3 separate regions of the Homo sapiens genome follow, and all the other regions are linked to region 1. The links come from fine-mapping of genetic effects on gene expression. A gene starts in region 1. Each other region holds a variant in brackets. All regions are shown on one strand. Distances are from middle to middle. Region 1 holds the start of IGSF11 (immunoglobulin superfamily member 11). Region 2 overlaps B4GALT4-AS1 (B4GALT4 antisense RNA 1). Region 3 overlaps B4GALT4 (beta-1,4-galactosyltransferase 4).

Evidence for each region. PIP is the estimated chance that this variant, and not a neighbour inherited with it, causes the effect.
Region 2: its variant is the best candidate, but not a certain one, in a credible set for the expression of IGSF11 in whole blood (TOPMed, PIP 0.65).
Region 3: its variant is the best candidate, but not a certain one, in a credible set for the expression of IGSF11 in lung (GTEx, PIP 0.56).

The regions. Positions count from the first base shown.
Region 1 is chr3:119,032,606-119,036,845 of GRCh38, reverse strand. It overlaps IGSF11 (immunoglobulin superfamily member 11), which reads left to right and starts at 2,000. Exons shown (of 7, transcript NM_001015887.3): 1 at 2,000-2,315. The coding sequence starts at 2,264. RefSeq lists a silencer at 1,720-2,079.
Region 2 is chr3:119,245,154-119,249,393 of GRCh38, reverse strand. All of the region lies in intron 3 of B4GALT4-AS1 (B4GALT4 antisense RNA 1), which reads right to left. Among named protein-coding and RNA genes, the nearest start is that of B4GALT4, 6.4 kb to the right of the region's middle. The variant G/A (reference allele first, on the strand shown) is at 2,318.
Region 3 is chr3:119,232,630-119,236,869 of GRCh38, reverse strand. B4GALT4 (beta-1,4-galactosyltransferase 4) reads left to right here. Exons shown (of 8, transcript NM_003778.4): 2 at 1-17. It overlaps B4GALT4-AS1 (B4GALT4 antisense RNA 1), which reads right to left. Exons shown (of 4, transcript NR_046574.1): 3 at 1,730-1,838. Among named protein-coding and RNA genes, the nearest start is that of B4GALT4, 6.1 kb to the left of the region's middle. The variant G/A (reference allele first, on the strand shown) is at 2,006.

The DNA.
Region 1 (4,240 bases):
TTAATGACTCAGTAGCTCTTGCCTGGCAAGGCAGAAGTATCCTTAGGTGACAAAGAGGCAGAACTCTATCTGCTTATTTATGATAGCACAGATATAGCCCATATGCAATTGGAACTTATTTGGGGTCAGGGGTCATTTTTTTTTTTTTGGTTTAACCTTAAACCTGGTGCCTTACAAAGTGTAGGTACTTGGTAAATAGTTGTTAAATTGATGCGATAAATATATCAGATAACTTGCTTTATCAGAGCTTTAAGCTCAGATTATTAGGTTATTTAAAGGATATTTATTTAAAGGATAAATATTCTGCCTCTATATTTATATCTGGGATTATGGTGACATGAAGAGTTGCTCTCAGTAGCTCCTATCACTTGACCGCTTCCTTGTTTTTCTTCTTATATTGCTTACTCTTATACCCTGCTTAGGACTGGATTAGACTGCAGGAATATGTACAAGAGAGGGTGAGGGATTGAATTGGATGGAAAAAAGAAACTCTAGTCCTTACCCTGGAGTTTAAAAGAATGAGAATGAGCCTCGTGATATCATAGTTGGAAATTTAAATTTGTTATTAATATGAAAAACTCTACTGTCATATCATTTATTTCTTGCCATTAGAGATCTGGTAGGGAATTCTAGCAAGTTGGAAGTAGTGAGCAAAGTTGAGGCATCTCTACTTCATAATCAAAATTTATCCTTTCAGGATATTCTTGTTAAAAGTTATTAACATTTCTTAACATGTTTCATTTTTTTAACCTTAAAAATATAATATCCACATTTTCAAAAAGAAGTACATCCATAACTCCACCATCTTGATATTTTAATTTTACATATATCTTCCAATCCTTGTCCAAATGTATGTTTAAAAAATATTTTACATATTTTTCTTCTGTGCATATTATTTTTGTTTCTGAGTTTCCCTGGGAGGATTGTATTTGCCAGATGAGGGCTCAATTTCTGAATGGCTCCGAGAACCCTAATTTATGCTGCTGTAGAAACTGACCAAAATGGGTTGGCATCCCCTGGGCAGGTATGTCCTCAAATTTAGAAGGCTCAGTTTGGAGGCTGAAGCAGGAAGTGACTATGAGCTGTACAATAAAGAGCAGAGCCCAGTATAAGAGAATAAAGATAGGTTTTACAAGAAAAGATGTAGGTAGATATTTAAGTAAAACAATTTCAGATGCTAGGAAAGTCTTTCTCCCCACCCAACCCAAACAAACAAGAAGCAAAAACAAAAAACCCAACTAAACAACGATTACAATAAATGTACATACCCCACTAGTTAACATGTATACTTAAGGTCAGTTTAAGAAAGCACTAACGTTTAAGCTGGAAAACTTAAAATATTAGAAGTTGACATAAGGTTTACAAAAGGGGCAAGAGAAGATGGCAGTCTCTCTGATAGGAATGGGGAGTTAGGGGCATGGTCCAGCCTCTATCCACTTTTCAAGGAAGAAAGGTGAAAAGGCATCCAGGAAACAGCGCAAAACCAAAACACTGTAAAATTAGGAATTCCTAATTCTGCCAGAGTCAGGTTCTTTCAGATTATTTAGGTTTTATAAGAGAGGACTGAAAGTGAAAAAGCCAAATATAAATTATCCGAAAACTGCAACAGGAAAGACTCTTGCAGGCTCAGAGGAAGGCTGTGGAAAAGTCATTGCTAGAGCTCTCCAGGATGCATCAGGCCGACACCACCTGTTTGCGGAGGGGTTTAGACCAAGGGAGGGGCCCTAACTCCGGCGAGGAGGGCGCCCACCCCTCGGTTCCCGGAGCTGGTGGAGGCGTGCGGGGGAGCGGGCGGCGCGGTGCACAGGTGGCGGGGGCCGCGCCAGCTGCGCGCCGCGCTCTGCTCCGCGGGTGGGCCGCCAGGCGTCGCGCTGGAGCCGCGGTTGCCCTGGAGACCAAGCGGGGCGAGTGGGCGGCGCGGCGAGGAGCCGAGCTGCGGCTGGAGTAGCGGGGCGTGAGTTGGGGGGAGTGGCTCCCCGGACTGCGCGAGGGGTCGGCTAGTCCTGGGGCAGGGCTGGGTGGCACGGCTGGCGAGCCCGGAACGCCTCTGGTCACAGCTCAGCGTCCGCGGAGCCGGGCGGCGCTGCAGCTGCACTTGGCTCGTCTGTGGGTCTGACAGTCCCAGCTCTGCGCGGGGAACAGCGGCCCGGCGCTGGGTGTGGGAGGACCAGGCTGCCCCAAGAGCGCGGAGACTCACGCCCGCTCCTCTCCTGTTGCGACCGGGAGCCGGGTAGGAGGCAGGCGCGCTCCCTGCGGCCCCGGGATGACTTCTCAGCGTTCCCCTCTGGCGCCTTTGCTGCTCCTCTCTCTGCACGGTGAGTAGCTCCAGCCCTTTCTTCCCGGTGGGGCCAGGCCGGGTCGGCGGGCCCGGGGCGAAGCTGTTTGGGGACGGCAAAGAGCCTCCTTGCTTTGCCGAGGGTCGGGAGTCCAACTTTCTCAGGGGCGGCGTTCGTTGCTGCGGCCGAGGCTCGCGCGCACCTGCAGCGGCTGCTTCTGCCGCCCGCGCAGCCCAGGTGTTCCTTGTCAGAGAGGTAACTAAACTCGTCCGGCTACCTCCGGTCCCAGGCCGGGCCCTGACTCTCACCTCGCTGCGCTCTGCGGAATGCAGGATCCTTTTTAGATAACGAACTCCCTTACTCACTGGTCCAGTTAGAAACTGTATTTAGAACCAGTTGTCTTTACTAGGCGGCCCTAGGAAAACTAGAAGTGCTTTTAAAATCATTTGGAAAACTTTATAGCTTTAACGTAACCTTTTAGAAGCCTATACACGTTTTGGCCGAAAATGATCTTTATTTTAAAACTAATTGTATACTGTGCTATACTACAATCGAAAACAAGAATTTATTTACACTCTAGCTTCATCTCCAAAGGACTTAAGTTGGCTCTCAACAATACATAGAATATAACAATATTAGAACAAAATAAATAAATGTCTTTAAATTTCTTGTTAACGGTTTTTAAAACATCTGTTTATAAATTTAGCTTTTAATCTCTGCTTAATCTTTCTTACATTTTCGGTGAATAGCCATCATATTAATTTAGATCCTGATTTTCATCCTATGCAGTGCTGTTTGTTTTTGTGTGTGCATTCTCCTGTGGAATCCAGTTTTCTGTCCCATTTATTGCTGAGATTTACTGAGATTTTTTTTCTGAAGGATGTTATTTAAAAAGCGGGTTCAGTGATTTTGGAACTTTGTGGTTAACCCTGTTTTTTTTCTGGAGACACCAGCATGTTTCCAGTCATTTCATGGCCTTATTCGAACTGATTTTGAAGTAACCTAATACTAGCCAACTTAACTTGTGCAGATTCATTGAATAGGGGAGAAGAGAATACGAAAACTTTTTGTATGTCTTCTCCGTAGAAACTAATGAAGCTGTTATCATCAAAATTAACTTTTCTAGAGTTCAGTAGGTATATTTTTAGTGATGATGTGCACACAATAACATCAATATGTCCATGTTATGAACTTGTGCTTCCAAGTATCTTGTACTGTTACTAGTTTGAGATGGCCAGTTTTTCTCTCTGTCCTACTACTTTTAAGTGTGAAATAAGAGAGTAAATCGGCTTTTTATGCAATCCTTGGACACAGCTCTAAATATTACCAATATTACAAGAACAGCTCAAATTTTTGGTAGAACATTCTATTATTAAAGTTGTATATTATAATAAATGCTCCTCTTTTTGTAAATAGCATTTGTGTATAGTTTGTTTTTGAATTATTAGGCAGTACTTTAAAAGAGTTGATACAATTCGCAGACTCAGCCTTGCAAGGTCATCTGATTTGTTCTTTTTTCTTCAGCAAAACTATTCCCAAGCCATAGAAAAATGTTTTTAAAGACTTCCAAGGACTTCTCAGTTTTGGCAATAACCTGTTATGTAGAGGCATTTTCCACTTTCAAAAACAGTGTTCATTGTTCAACAGATATTTACAGAGCCATCACTCTGTGCTTTTGAGTATCTGGTGGGGAAAGGTGGTGGTGGAATACAAAGACGCGTGTGAGTGTCTGCAGCCCGTAAGGAGTTTGCATTTTTAAAACAGGCTGTAAGCATGCACAAATAATTTATGGTACAGGGAATGTATGATGAGTTCTATTTGTTAATGTAAGTATCAAGTAAGACTTCTTGGAAAAGTTTACTTTTTATCTGGACATTGAATGAATAGGGTATGAATTGGCTCAGATGGGAGTGGATGGGCTTTCTTAACCAAAGGAACAGCCTGAAGGAAGGATGTAAAGTGGA
Region 2 (4,240 bases), 210 kb before region 1:
TGTTTCATGGCCTATCATATGGACTGTCTTGGAGAATATTCTATGTGCTGATGAGAAGAATGTATTGTATATTCTGGAGTTGTTGGGCAGAATGTTCTGTAAATATCTGTTAAGTTCATTTGTTCTACAGTATAGTTTAAGTACATTGTTTCTTTGTTGAATTTCTGTCTTGATGACCTGGCTAGTGCTGTCAGCGGAGTATTGAAGTCCTCCATTATTATTGTGTTACTGTCTATCCCATTTCTTAGGTCTAGTAGTAATTGTTTTATAAATTTGGGAGCTCCAGTGTCAGGTGCATATATATGTAGAATTGTAATATCTTCCGGTTGGACTAATTGTTTTATTGTTATATAACGTCTTTCTTTGCCTATTTTTACAGCTGTTACTTTAAAATCTGTTTTGTCTGATATAAGAATAGCTACTCCTGCTTGCTTTTGATTTCCATTTGGTGAAATATCTTTTTCTACCCCTTTACCTTAAGTTTATGTGAGTCCCTATGTGTTCAGTGAGTCTCCTGAAAACAGTAGATACTTGGTTGGTGGATTTTTATCCATTTCACCATGCTGTATCTTTTAAGTGGAGCATTTAGGCCATTACATTCAACATTAGTATTGAGATGTGAGGTACTGCTCTATTCATCATTTTAGCTGTTGCCTAAATACTTTTTTTTAATTGTGTTATTGCGTTATAGGCCTTGTGAGATCTATGCTTTAAGGAGGTTCTATATTGGTGTATTTAAACATTGTATTTTAAGATTTAGAACTCCTTTTAGCATTTCTTGTAGTGCTGGTTTGGTAATGGCAAATTCTCTCAGCATTTGTCTGAAAAAACCTTTATCTCTGTTTCATTGATTAAGCTTAGTTTTGTTGGATACAAAATTCTTGGTAGACAATTATTTTCTTTAAGGAGGCTAAAGATAGGACCCCAGTCCTCTCTGGCTTCTAAGGTTTCTTTTGAGAAATATGCTGTTAATCTGATAGGTTTTCCTTTATAGGTTACCTGATGCTTTTGTCTCACAGATTTTTTTTTTTTTTTCTGAGATGATGTTTTACCCTTGTTGCCCAGGCTCAAGTGCAATGGCATGATTTCAGCTCACTGCAACCTCTCCCTCCCAGGTTCAAGCAATTCTCCTGCCTCAGCCTCCCAAGTAGCTGGGATTACAGGCATGTGCCACCATGCCTGGTTAATTTTTGTATTTTTAGTAGAGATGAGGTTTCACCATGTTGGCCAGTCTGGTCTCAAACTTCTGACCTCAGTTGATCCTCCCACCTTGGCCTCCCTAAGTCCTGGGATTACAGATGTGAGCCATCACACCCAGCCAGTCTCACAGCTTTTAAGATTCTTTTCTTTGTCTTGACTTTAGATAACCTGATGACTATGTGCCTTGGTGGTGGTCTATTTGCAATGAATTTCCCAGGAGTTCTTTGAGCTTTTTGTATTTGGATGTCTAGATATCTAGCAAGGCCATTGACGTTTTCCTCAATTATCCCCTCAAATAAGTTTTCCAAACTTTTAGATTTCTCTTCCTCAGGAATGCCAATTATTCTTAACTTCGGCCATTTAATATAATCCCATATTTCTTGCAGGCTTTGTTCATTTTTTAAAATTCTTTTTCTTTCTTTCTTTTTTTTTTTTGTCTGATTGGGTTGATATGAAAGCTTTGTCTTTGAGCTCTAAAGTTCTTTCTTCTACTTGTTCTAGTCTATTGTTGAAACTTTCCCCTGTATTTGGTATTTCTGTAAGTATGTCTTTCATTTCCAGGAGTTGTGATTGCTTTTTCATTATGATATCTATTTCTCTGAAAAATTTTCCATTCATATCCTGTATTGTTTTTTAAATTTCTTTTAAAAAAATGAAAATTTGGTTTTCATCTTTCTCTGGCTTCTCATTGAGTGGCTTAATTATCAACCCTCAGAATTCTTTATCAGCAATTCAGAGATTTTTTGTTTGTTTGTTTGGATCCATTGTTGGGGAGCTACTATATTTTGGGGGTATCATAGAACCCTGTTTTGTCATATTATCAGAATTACTTTTCTGGTTCCTTTTGGTAGACTATTTCTTCAAATTGTTCTTGAATTTATTTTTGATGGGATTGTGCTTTTTTAATTTATTTTTTCCCTCTTAAGGATTAGACCTTAATATTTATTCCAGTCTAATTTGATTCTTGGTGCTTGCAGGGGTGAAGACTCTGTATGAGTTCCTTAGTTATAGAGAGTCTTTGTGTGCTGGCTCTCCTGATGCTGATTGTAGTAGTTATGTACTTGGTATGTGGGCAAGTTCACTGTCTCCTATGAACTTGGAATGGCAGGGATCTCTT[G/A]AAGCTTATCTCATTCTCTTGTGGTCTATATTTATTTGTTTAATTTTTCCCCAGTATTTTATTTACTGAGTTGACGATTCAGGCTTCAGGCCAATAGGGGAGGTATTCTTGGGTAGGTACTAGTTGTAGCTAAAGCAGGTGAATAGATATAATCCCAATGGTGGGCTCAGGCCCCAGCCTTGATGAGGATGGCTGCGGGAGCTCACAATTTGATGTCCTGAGGTTTTATCAGGGTGAGGAGTAGGAGCTACCTCAGCTCCCTTCTCAGGTCATCAAGCTATTCACCTCACAGTCTCATTCCTGTCCCAGTGTTTCAGCTATTCAGATCAGTCAGGACCTCTTTTCATCTACAGGAATGTTGATGTTTCTTGCCTCTTGTGCAGGCTTGAATCTGGGGGGGTGCTTCTCCTGTGGGGCTTGTGCTTACCCTGGATTGTTCCAGCAAGGCTGTCTATAGCTGCCTCTATGCTGCATTCCTGTGGAAGAAGCTTCAGCTGTGTCTGCAGTGTAGTGCCAGGGGGAACAAGGATGCCTTCTCTAGTGCCCTTCATAATCACACAGGCCACCTGCCTGTTGGGGTAGAGGTGCAGACTTTCTCTACTGTACCCAGCACTGCAATTGTGTCTCTGCTGTGAGAAACTTCCCACCAGTAGAAAGATCTGGAACTCACGGCCTGGTGTTTGGATTCTTTTGTCCCATGGGGTGACCCCTTGATGTGGTGCTCTCCCTCTTCCCCTAGGAATGGGGCTTCCTGAGAGCCAGACTGAAGTGATTGTTATTCCTCTTCTGGGTCTAGCCACCCAGCTAGGCTCTGAGCTGGTGCTGGGGAATGTCTGCAAAGAGTCCTGTGATGTGATCTGTCTTCAGGTTTCCCAGCATGGATACCAACACTTGTTCTGATGGAGGTGGCAGGGGAGTGATGTAGTCTGTGAGATTTCTTGGTTGTAGATAGACTCAGTGTGCTGGCTTTCTTGAATGCTGGTTATGCTAGCGGTGAAGTTGTCATGTGGACAGACTCAGGACCTTTAGTTAGCCAGGGTGTTGCAGTGAGTGGTATTAGCTGTTGTTTTCTCCTTCCTGGAAGAAGCGTTATTCTGCCAAGAGTTGCTGTAATGGCCTGAGTTGGCTGGCTTCCAGCCAGGAGGGGACACTTGCAAGAGAGCACCAGCTGTGGTAGTAGCAGTGACATTTGAGCTTGGCCTAAGTTGTCTAGGGGAAGTATTCTGGTTTCCCAGGCAATGGGCAGGGCCATAAGGCTCTCAAGAGTTTATGTCTTTTGTGTTAAGCTACAAGGCAGGTAGATAAATACCATCAGGTCGGGGCAGGGTTGGGCGGGCCTGAGTTCAGATTCTCCCTGGGCAAGGCCTGCCATGGCCTGCTGGGGGATAGGAGGGGTGGATCTCAGGCCAATGGGGTTATGTTCTAGAGGAGAGTATGGCTGCTTCTGCTGTGCAGTAGAGTTTGCAAGGGGAGTGGGGATTAGCTCATAGTGAAAGTCCTCATCCAGCTCCCACAGAGTTGGTGAGGCCAGTCTTGCTCCCATGGTGCCCCACTAACAGCACTGAGTTTAGATCCAGGCAGCTGGTGTGTAGAACTCAGACCTGCCCTGGGCCATGAGCTTCCCTGCTGAGGAAGAAAGCATGGCTTTCAGGTCACACCCCTCCCCATCTGCCTGCAATGCTGGGTGCCCAGCTTCTGCCCTTGTATCTGCATTAGTTTCCATTTGTCCGCCCACCCCTGGATTCTGTTCAAGGGTGCTCATGCCCACTTGAAATTACCACAAAACTCAGTTGGTAGCTTATTTCACTCTGTGACTCCTTCCTAAGTTTGGTGGCTGCCTTCCCTGAGGGCCCCTGTTAGATATGGTCAGGGATGGCTTCCCTGGGCTCAAGCTGGAGACTGAGAATGCCTCCAAGGCTCTTC
Region 3 (4,240 bases), 200 kb before region 1:
AGTGCCATTTGTTAAAGGTGAGGACCCTACCCTTAGAAAAGTGTTGATATTAGTGAACTGAAGGGAGCTAGTATCGGGGTGAGCCTTTTTAATTTTTAAAATCCTTCTCAGGTGGAATTTTGTACTCATATTATTAATCTTTATTTCCCACCTTCTTTTTTAATGTTTCATTCCTTTTAGCAGTAGCCTGGAATTATGATGTGTCCTTGTGTATTTCAACTAGTATATCCTAGTCCGTCATTTGTTACTAAATTGAGTACCTGCTATGTGTCAGGTTGGTTTGAGGCACTAGGAATACAAAAACAATGATTCTCCTTGAGAATTAAGTTAATTTACTATCATTTGTTGACTCAGGTTATACCTAGTCTCTGACTCTTTATTTTTAGTTTTAGTTAATTTTAGACTTACAGAAAAGTTGTAAAAATGATACACAGTTCACCTAGCTTCCCCTAATATTAACCCCTTACATAACCATACTACATTGATCAATACTATTAACTAAACTACAAACTTTATTGAAAATTCATCAATTTTCCTACTAATGTCTGTTTTTTTTTTCTGTTCCCATTGTATTTTATCAAGGATCCTGCATTTTATTTAGTTTTTCTTTCTCCTTAGTCTCCTCCAATCTGAAATAGTTCCTCAGTTTTTCCTCGTCTTTCATGATTTTGATTCTTCGAAGAGTACCAGTTAGGTATATCGTGGAATGAACTTGTGGTGAGCGATTGGATTTCTCCACTACAAAGTTACTGTCTTTCCCTTTGTAGTTAAGAATTATCTTGGGGAAGATACTTTGAGACTATACTGTTTATCCTCAAATTTTTGCCTGTTAGTTTAGCATCCACTGGTGAACCTTGTCTGCAACAGTTATTAAGTGGTGTTTGCTGAGAGTGATTTTTTTTCCATCGCTCACTTTCTTACTAGTTGGAATTTAAGAAAAGAGCCGCCCCTTCTCTTCTATTCATTTATTTGTTTGATCATTTTTATCAGTGTAGACTAGTGGATAGTCACTTTATCCTATGGGTTAAAATACAGTGCCATCATTTTTTTTTTAAATTACTCAAATGCTTCTAGGTTGGGCTGTTAGGAGCTTAATCTCTGGGTTTAAATGACTTGTACATGTAAATGGCTGTCATCATTTTTATCCCATTCCTACCCTGCCCAGGGAACCACTGTCCCTTTAGGATCTGGCCAGTGATCATTTAGAAGTCTCCTAAAGGAGTTGTAATTGGGATAATGAATACCAAGGCCTAAGGAAAGTGGGGCAATGTGTGTGTAAAAGGTAAACTCCTAGGAACTCTGCAGGAGTAAAAAGAGTAGCAAAATAATCAGTCTTTCTTCTGGTGTTGCCCCAGGGAGCCCCAAGGCATCAGGATCATGTGCCTGGGACAACATCAAGCCCACTCACATGCCCTGTGTCTGCAAAATTACCTGATAGGTTCAGAGATGTTGGAATGCTGATTTTGGTGCTCATAGCTGCCGAATGAACACACCCTTTCTCCTTGGTGCAAATGCTTAGTAAATATTTTTAGAGTGATACATGGTGTCCTCCCCACCCACTTTAGTGGAGTAAAAATGTGTGTGGTTAGAGATTCTCCAAGAATGATACTTAGCACTTATGTTTCCTTTCCTTTTGTTATAGCTTATCTTCCTTGCCAGATTTTAAAAACTATTATGGAAAATCTCAAGCATTCACAAAAGTAGAGAGAAAGAAAGGACTCTCAGGTACCTATCACTTATATTCAAGACTTCTCAGTATTTTATCCGTCTTGTTTCATCTGTTCTCCCACTTTGGGATGTTGTTCTCATATTTGACAGGAAATTGCAGACATTGAGATCTAGAAAAAGATAGAAATAAACCCTGAGTACAAAGACTAGGCTTTAATTCTCTTTATATGGTTTTCCCTTTGCTTGAAAATAGCAGGTAGTCAGAAAAAGACTGGTTGAATTGAGTGGAGGAAAACCAAATATGAAAACATGACCATTTTTAACTAACTACGGGGCA[G/A]ACTTCTAGAAAGGAAAAGAGTGGTAAATCTTGCCCTAAATAACTTCTTTCATGTTGCCTGAATTTGTTCTCAATACTGATGATGTAGTCCCTTGGCACTTCAAGACAGCCTTGACTGAAAAAGAAAATAACTCTGAGACTCCTGTGAGAATTAAGGGTCTCTCAATTACTTAAATGTTAGTGTAAATAAATCCAATATGATGGCACTTTCCCAAACACCAACCAGGAGTCACTTGCCCTAAAAATAACTTTCTTTAAAAAGTCATTATGTTTTTCTAATTATAAAAATATTACATACTCATTAAAAGAAAAAATGGAAATTACAGAGTTAGAAAGTAAAAATCATCTCATTAATCCCAGAGATAACATTATCTTGGGCAATATTCTGATAACATTTGAACATGAATCACATTGGTAATTAGAGCCAATAAATACATGTGTTCCTGGCCAGGCATGGTGGCTCACGCCTGTAATCCCAGCACTTTGGGAGGCTGAGGTGGGCAGATCATTTGAGGTCAGGAGTTTGAGACCAGCCTGGCCAACATGGTGAAACTCTGTCTCTACTAAAAATAAAGAAAAATTAGCTGGGTATGGTGGGGCATGCCTGTAATCCCAGCTACTTGGGAGGCTGAGGCAGGAGAATCGCTTGAACCTGGGAGGCGGAGGTTGCAGTGAGCTGAGATCACACCACTGCACTCCGGCCAGGCCGACAGAGGGAGACTCCGTCTCAAAAAAGAAAAAAAAAAAACTTGTGTCCTGGAAATGTACCAGATATAACAGTGTACTTGGGTGCATCATCTCATTAAATTCCTAGAGCAACTTTGTGAGATAAATATTTTTCATCATTTTATAGCTGGGACACAACGGTGAGAGGGGTTGCCTCCAGTCACTTGGCTGGTCTTTCTTGAAACATAGATGGACAGACAGATGACAGACCCTTCACACTTCAGATGTTTACTCACAGGAGCCAAGGAAACCTTACTTCTGAACTTCCTTATGCTGGCTCTCTGTACAGTTTTTGGGAGAGCACTTAGACTTAGAAAGATAGGTAAGAATTATTTTTAACTGGGTCAGATGTCTCAGAAGCAGGATTAGTAATGAAGGCCTAATACTTAAGTAATTATTAATAATGGCTCCTTGCTTTTAGAATAAATGTCTTACCTTTGAACAGAGTCTGTAAGCTGCAGTTGAGCAATATTAGTTTATGAATATTTGCAGCTATTCTTGGATAGGTTTTTTTGTTTTTGTTTTTTTAAATTACAGTCATCCCTCAGTATATGGAAGGAATTGGCTCCAGGACCCCTGCATCTACCCAAATCCATGCATGCTCAAGTCCTTTTGTCAGCCCTGAGGAACCCACATATTGGAAAAGTTGGCCCTCTGTATACACAGGTTTTGCATACCGGGAATATTGTATTTTTGGTCTGCATTTGGTTGAAAACAATCTGAGTATAAGTGGAGCCGTGCAGTTCAAACCCATGTTGTTCAAGGTTCAGCTGTATTTTTTAGGACAGTTTTAGATTCTTAACCAAACTGAGCAGAAGATACAGAGATTTCCCATGTACCCCGTGCCTTGGGTAGGTTTTTAAATCTCTTCCCACTCTGTAGAATGAGGGAGGTGGATGTGTGGTCTTTAAGATCTTTTCTGATTTCAACACTGCAGTAATTTTATGGTCATAACCTCCTTCCACTTGGCGATTCTCTCTTCCAGGGGACTCTCCCTCTAAAAATAGCTCTTAGAAAAGCCATGTTCCCAGGGCTGGGTGCGGTGGCTCACACCTGTAATCCTAGCACTTTGGGAGGCCAAGGTGGATGGATCGCTTGAGGCCAGGAGTTCAAGACCAGCCTGGACAACATGGTGAAACCTTGGCTCTACTAAAAATACAAAAATTAACTGGGCGTAGTGGTGCACGCCTGTAATCCCAGCTGCTTGGGAGGCTGAGGCACTAGAATTGCTTGAACCGGGAGGTAGAGGTTGCAGTGAGCTGAGATTGTGCCACGGCACTCTAGCCTGGGCAATAGAGTGAGACCCTGTCTCAAAAAATAAAAATAAAAAATAAATAAAGATAAGCAATGTTCCCAGTCTGAATTTTCTAAGATTAAGATCCTTATTTTAAAAATTGCCAATCCTAGCATTTAAGCCTCCTACAATTAAGTCCACAAGAGGTTGTCTGATTGGCCCCAGGAACCTGATGACTTACTGTCACCAGGTGGGAAGAGAACAGACCTCCAGGA